2 linked regions of the Homo sapiens genome follow. The protein of the gene in region 1 interacts with the protein of each later gene in a biochemical or structural test. Each region holds a gene or a part of one and is shown on either strand. Other genes may lie near its edges.

The links. Proteins that work in one complex are often made in the same cells at the same time.
Region 2: the proteins of NFKBIE (region 1) and REL form a complex in vitro, tested with the Homo sapiens proteins (2 studies listed by BioGRID).

Annotation. Positions count from the first base shown.
Region 1 is NC_000006.12:44,263,373-44,267,120, reverse strand, and holds the start of NFKBIE (NF-kappa-B inhibitor epsilon), read left to right. Parts: upstream 1-1,569; 5' UTR 1,570-1,774; coding exon 1,775-2,139; intron 2,140-3,748. UniProt on the Homo sapiens protein: Sequesters NF-kappa-B transcription factor complexes in the cytoplasm, thereby inhibiting their activity. Sequestered complexes include NFKB1-RELA (p50-p65) and NFKB1-REL (p50-c-Rel) complexes.
Region 2 is NC_000002.12:60,884,440-60,888,187, forward strand, and holds part of REL (proto-oncogene c-Rel), read left to right. Parts: intron 1-3,748. UniProt on the Homo sapiens protein: Proto-oncogene that may play a role in differentiation and lymphopoiesis.

The DNA of each region.
Region 1 (3,748 bases):
TGTCTTATCCCAACCACTCTGAGCTGTAATTGCCAAGGAGCTTTTTTAGGACCATGGGATTTTTTTGTTGGTCATGGGGGGTGGTTATTGGTTATTACTGTGATAGTCAGTTTTGCTTCCAGTAGAAAGAACAACGTCAGACATTACAGGAGACCTTCCATACATGTTTGTCAAGTAGGTGAATGATGGATGAATAAAATGAGGTTGCAGGGGAAGGGCTGTGGGAAAGCTGGCCTCCCCCCTGCAAAACGTTGCTGTCTACACTCATCCACCTTCCTTTCTCCAATGCTGGAGATGGAAAAGCTACATGTTCCCTTGCGGATAACCCTCTAAGGGCATTGCTGGCGTTAGGCTGATAGCACTTGGAATAGTGGGGAGGAATGAGGGAATAAATCATGGAGCATGGGCTTAGGGCTCACTTGTAGTAGGGTGCTCCCACGGCCTTCCTAGGCCCAGGGACAGTGAAAGAGGAAAGATGTTTTGGGACTAAGATTGGGGCTGTGTTGGGGACCTGAGCAGAGTGCAACCCAGCATGTCTGGGGCCTCCCCAACCTGACCCCACTTCCTTGACTGCTGGGGTTGACCAGAAACTGTAACTACCCAAGGCCAGGGTTTCACCCTTTGAGGAAGAAGAAACTCCACAACCACTTTACTTTTTAGACAACAGTTTCCCTGAGAAGACGCTCTTTCCAAAAAAACATTTTCATGCCCAATTCCATGTGATGTGGGACGTTGACACAGGAGACTGTCTTCCAGGACCCAGGAGAACTGCTCCTTTAAAGATAATGGGAGTCCCCTTTCCCTACCCGTACCCCTGGGCACTGATAGGGAAAGATGAGAAAGCAAGAGAAATTGAGATAAATGGGCAGGGGATAGGAAGCAGTGCTTCCCCATCCCATCGCCTACATGCCCTCCCCCAAAGATGCCAGCTTGTACGGACAATTAATAGATATTTCTTTTAAAACAAATGAATGATCCGGGACCGGTGGCTCACAGCCTGTAATCCCAGCACTTTGGTAGTCCGAGGCAGGCAGATCGCTTGAACCCAGGAGTTCGAGACCAGCCTGGGCAACGTAGCGAGACCCCCGTCTCTACTTGTAGTCCCAGCTACTCGAAAGGCTGAGGCAGGAGAATCGCTTGAACCCAGGAGGCGGAGGTTGCAGTGAGCAGAGATCAACCACTGCACTCCAGCCTGGGCAACAGAGCAAGACTTCGTCTCAAAAAAATAAAAAATAAAAATAAAACAAATGAATTAAGAAATAGAAGTGAAAGAAGGAAACAGTACATGCGTGGAACTAATGAATGGAGTGAAGGAGGAAGGGGGAAAGAGTGAATGAATGAATGAATGAATGAGTGAATGAATCAACGAAGGAGTGAGTCAAGGCCCGGGAACCACAGACTCCAAGCCTACGCAGAGCCCGGGAAGGGGGATTCCGGAGGGGCGGGGCCTCTTTCCGGAAGCGCCCGCCGGGGGCGGGGAGGGGGCGGGGCCATCCGCGTGAGGCGACCCTGTTGGTCCGGAGGGGCGGGGCGAGGAGGAGGACCCGCTTGGGCGGTTCGGCTGCCCACAGTAACCGCTGGGTGGACCTGGCCAGCGCTCCGAACCTTGTCCTCGCTGCGCGCCGGCCCCTCGGAGCCCCACAGCCCGGGAAGGAGGCCGCCGCGGGCCGGGCGCCCGCTCTGCCAAGCGGACCCGCAACCCGGAAAGGCGGCGCGGCGGAGCCTGGAGCCGGATCCTGCTCAGACCGGGCCCCGGCCGGCCAGAGCCGCGGGCATGTCGGAGGCGCGGAAGGGGCCGGACGAGGCGGAGGAGAGCCAGTACGACTCTGGCATTGAGTCTCTGCGCTCTCTGCGCTCCCTACCCGAGTCCACCTCGGCTCCAGCCTCCGGGCCCTCGGACGGCAGCCCCCAGCCCTGCACCCATCCTCCGGGACCCGTCAAGGAACCACAGGAGAAGGAAGACGCGGATGGGGAGCGGGCTGATTCCACCTATGGCTCCTCCTCGCTCACCTACACCCTGTCCTTGCTGGGGGGCCCCGAGGCTGAGGACCCGGCCCCACGCCTGCCACTCCCCCACGTGGGGGCGCTGAGCCCTCAGCAGCTGGAAGCACTCACTTACATCTCCGAGGACGGAGACACGTGAGTATGGGGGCTAGGCTGAATCGGGATGCTAACTCTGGGCCTGCCCAAGAGCCGCAACAGGTCGGGCACCCCCACTCCCCCGTGAAGATCCTTCAAGTCCCCATTCGCTCTTCCAAACTCCAGACTTAACTCTCAGCCCACTTTTGAGGTCCAGCTAGGCCATGGAATCATCTCTGTCCTCCCATTTCGGGGTGGGCAGAGCTGGCAGGACCCTTAACCCAGCCAGCATCTTGGAAATCTACCAATAATCCACCCTTAGGAAGAGAAAATTCCCCTGACCAAGTCCAGTTTTTTTGTTTCTTCTTGCTGGGGAAGGGGACATCCTTATTTGCTCAATATCTGGGATTCCCAGTTCCTGACCTCAGAATGCTCTGTCTCAAGGAACAACAGGTGCCAGTTACAGGTTGCCAGTCGGGGCCAGGAAGCTAGGCATGGGGGGTGCCACCAGGGTGTAGGTTTGGGACTGGTCCTCAGGAGGATGGGGTGAGCCAGGCTGGGGCACTCTTGCCCCAGCAGACAGACAGGCGGCTGGCTGCCCCAGCTTACTTCCTCCTCTGCTAAGAAAGGGGAAGTGAGGGCTAGAGTCAGCGTCCCTGACATCCTCTACCTCCAGAGCCCCCAGTCCCACTAACTGTCGTGTCTCACTCCCTCACTTAACCCTTCCTCCTCCAGACCCAGATGGAGTTTGGTGGGAGTGGGCCAGAGGGCAGTTGAAGTAAAAGGCAGTTGTGTGGGATGGGTTGGCCAGTTGAGGATTTAGCCCCCCAGGAAGAAGAAAACATTGACAGAGGAGGGAAAGGTTGGGAACTGGGGATGAGAAATAGAGTTGGGGAGGGCTGGAATCCCTGGTCAAGGGTGCTCATATAAATAGGAGTAGGGGAGGCAGGAGGTGGCTGTCCTAACCTGCTTTTTGGAGATGCAGGGTCCTAATCCTGGGTGGCCATTGATAAAGACAGCTGGTGGACCCAGTGGGTGGGAGAGGAGTGACCCAGTCCTTTCTGTACTCTGCCTGGATCACCAGCCCTCAGGCCCAGAACCCCAAGGTTTTGGGGGCTGCACGCAAGATACCTCTGATGACCTTTGATCCAAGGAGAGGGGACTTTTGACATTGCCGTCTTTTGTTAGCCTCTCAGCCCCAGCCTTTTCCATCTCTAGTTAGAAGCAGGTGTTGTGTCCAGATTGGGTGTGTGTGTGGAGGGGAGAAATGTCCGGGCTCCCCAGCGAGTCCCCAGAGAGCAGGGGGCACTTTCCTCCCTCTGTTGGAGGTGTCTGGGCTGTGGGAGGTATGGAAGTGGGAAGAGGAAGTGGGAGGAGGGGATACTGGGGGAGAGAGGGAGGTGGCTGCAAGAATGTGACCCAGAGAGCAGGCCCTGGCCTAGGGGATTTCCAGAGCAGTTCCTCCCTCCCTCCGTCACTCTCCTGGGCCTCTCCTGCTGCCTGCTGCTAAAGCCTGCCACCCTCCTGCCCAAGCAGCCCCCTCCCCAGCCCAGACGGGCCTTTTAGCCAATCTACCCCCCTCACTAATGCCCCAAGGCAGCTGTCCCGGCCTAGACCCTCCATCACTGGCTTTCGTTTTCCCCACCTGACGTGGGGAAACCCCAAGACT
Region 2 (3,748 bases), on another chromosome or scaffold:
GCTTTTTAAAAAAATTACACCTTGATCACAGTCTTTTGACATAATTAATAATAGATATAGTGAAGAAAAATGTTCCCAAACCCATCTAAGGTATGCATAGTAGGCAGTTGTTGCTTTTGTATATTTATTCTATTTAATATAAGTAAAATTAGATATTTTATGTCTGAATTTAAACCTTCTCATTGTTCCAGTAAAAAGAGCAAAATGTCTTTGTGTGGCATATAGCTCTGTTAACTAATAATTAGTGCTGTCTTTGGTAAAATGTTTTAAAATTTAGATAATTTATTTTTCTTCACATTTTTCTTAGTATGGTTCTTCTGTGTCACACAATAGGAAGGAAGTACAGAAATGAATTGTTTTTGTAAACCTCACTTCTTACCAACTATTTGTAGTGTGAATTTCAAGAGAATTGTTGTTTTTCTCGATTAAAGGGGAGAAATGGAAGTAAGTGTGAGGCAACTTAATCTTTAATAACAGAGCTGGAAGTTAGGAATGGATAGCTACAGTAAATGACTTCTTTTTTTAAGTAAAATGCCACACATGAGCATGAATGTTTCAGAAATGCAACACATGAAAAAATAGAAATAACAATGGAGTTAAATAATTAAGGTGACGTATGATAGGCACAGATAAAGGGAATGAGTTAATGTAATGACTAGGGAGGAGCCAGACAATGAATCATAATTAGGAACATCTAGGTTATGCATAGTATCTTTCTCAAATACAATTTAAGGGACTCAGAATTTCATTTTGTTCCAACTTTCTCTCATATGGGTTCTCTGAAAATGATTTTGTTTGTAGGCACATGACCCAAATATTGCATGGGATAAAATTGTTTTTCTGAAATTCATATTTATCTGGGCCTCCTCTGTTTTTATTTTTAAAACAGAGGTGATTTGGTCTTGCCATTTGTTTTTAACTTTAATACCTGTATAATCTAGGACAGCTTTTAAAATTTATTTATTTTACCCTGGCACGTGCAAGAGTTTTTTCAAGACTTACCTTTTTTCCCCCTTGGTAACAGAATCCCTATTGCCAGAATCTTTTACAGTTTTTACCTTGTAGTGCATAAATCAGTTGAATACTCATCTGAAAATTTCCTTTCTTTGATTCTTAAGGCCCAGTTGAAAGTCAGCCTGATGTATTGGAGTAATAAAGTCAGCCTGATATATTGGCATAGCCTTTGGCTGATGAGAGACCTAGTTTGAGGAAAAAAATAATAGATCTTATTTTCTTTTTCTCCAAATTGAGTAGAGGTGATATTTGGAAAAATATATATTGTTAGCTCCATTGGCTCCTTTAGGTCTCAGGCAAAGTCTGTCACCGAGGACCTTTATGAGAGACATGCAGTCTAGTCAGCTATTCTCAACTGTGGTGTTGACACACTGGTGTGACAATCATTTGTGTGATGTGTTGCAAGAGTTAAAATATTTGTGTTGTAAATTATTTACTTTTTAAATAAATGAAAGCATTTGAAGGTTATCTCTATATTGTCATTTTTTCTTGCTTGCATTTGAATAAGGTTCTTTTTTAAGTGGGAGATAAACACAAGTTCAAGTTACAAGTAGCCAGAATTGCTTTGCCTAATTTACTCACGTCCCAGTCCATATTTGTACCTGAATTTTTAGATTACTTCTCTCAATATGTGCATTGTTGCTTCCACTTCATGTTTTAAGACAATTATTCTTAATCAGGAGTGTGTTAGAATTTCTTGGAAGGCTTTTTCAGCAACGTGTATCTGGGCTTTAAAAACTATGAAGATTTCTTTATCTTCTAAACATCTCAAGTGGGGTAAGGACATGTATGTTTTGAAAAAACTACCTAGGTGATTCTGATGTACATCCCCAGTATGAACTCTGTTCTAGGGATTTCTTTGGATCTAAATACTCATTTGGCTATACCAGGATGCATTATCTTCTTAAATTAAGTTGCATTTATTTTAGATTGCAGATTATGTGCTGTATCAGTTATTACCTCCAGTTGCTTTTATGCTTGTTTTTTAAATTTGGCACTGCCATATTAGCATACCATTCATAATTCATTTTTATTATAACTTCATATAATTTTCAACTTTAGTTTTATCATGTGTAAGATGGGATAATAATTTCTATTATTTTTCAAATGGAGATTAAAGTTAAGAGGATCAAATGAGAAATGTATATAAAGGGGTCTTAAAATAATGTTATAATTACAATAATTAGCTTTTTTTTCTGTATACTTGATGCTGGTTGCTAATTCTAGCAATAAAGTGTTTGTTAATAATGTGTCTATTTCCGATAATTTATGATCCATTTAAACATTTCAATGTAATTTTTTTATTTTAAAAGCTCATGCTTTATTAGATAGGCACTATGTTTTAAAATAGCACTCTTTCTTGCCTAAGCGCAAATAAAAACATAGATATATCTTACAAACATTTTGGCTGTATTTTAGAAGTTATTCTGATGTATATTAGCCTTTTAAAATACTATTCAGAATATAGGGGTCAGTCCCAGCTTTGCATAGTGTTGCTTAAAGAAAAATACAGTAATCAATTTGTTTAGAGTCAATTTTGGAGACGTTTTGGTGCTTTTCAAAACTGTGGCGATTTGAGGTTATCTTAGTTAAGAGTACTTATTTTCCCTACAATTTCCTGATTTATGTTTTACCCTCTTGCACTCCATAGATGACTACATTTCAACACATTTTATATTCAGGAAGAATGGCATTGTGCAAAGCACAGTACTGAGGAAGGAGATAACTGGTGCATTGTACTGATGCATTATATAAATGATTTATAGCTGGGAAGTTTTTTAAAAATCATAAACACAGATAAATCAAAATAGGAATGAGTATGAGGAAATACTGAGGTGTAGCAATCCTGGTACCTATAAAGCACTATTTTTTTTTCCTTAGTAGTGGAATCTAATTAAAAAATCTGACTAATCACTTATATGATTATTTAACGTTTGAATAACTTGTATAAACAAAAGACCTTAAGATTTTTTAGTCATTCATTCAATAGATGTTTAATGAATATCTCTGTACAAGGCACTGATGAGTTAAACACAATTTCTGCCTTCAAGTAGCTTGAAGAAATAAAACAAGTAGCTTTATCTCAAGAAGAAATAAGACGGTAAGTTTTCCCTAAATTACAGTTATTTGGAATAATTGCTATACACAGAATACTATGGTAGTTTAAAGGAGGGGAGATTATTTCCAGCTGGGGGAATGTAGAGTATTACAGTATACTGTGTTACTTGGTTGTAATACTCTACATTCCCCCAGCTTGTTAATTTTTACCAATTAAGAGCTTCTGCAGTAGGAAAAATAAATTCCAAGGACTTTAAATACTCAATATTATATGATAACTGATATTTATGTAATTTTTACTATTTAAAAATATTTAATCTTTTCAACAACTACTTTTCTGTTCTTTTTGTAAACAATCTAAAGAAGTGTCATGTAACCAATGAAGTTTTGGGTTTTTTTGTTGTTGTTTTTGTGTTTTGTTTGTTTTTTTTTTTGAGACGGAGTCTCACTCTGTCACCCAGGCTAGAGTGCAGTGGTACAATCTTGGCTCACTGCAGCCTCCACCTCCTGGGTTCAAGCAATTCTCTTGCCTCAGTCTCCCAAGTAGCTGGGATTACAGGTGCCTGCCACCACATCCCGCTAATTTTTTGTATTTTTAGTAGAGATGGGGTTTCACCATGTTTTCCAGGCTGGTCTGGAACTCCTGACCTCAAGTGATCCACCCACTTTGGCCTCC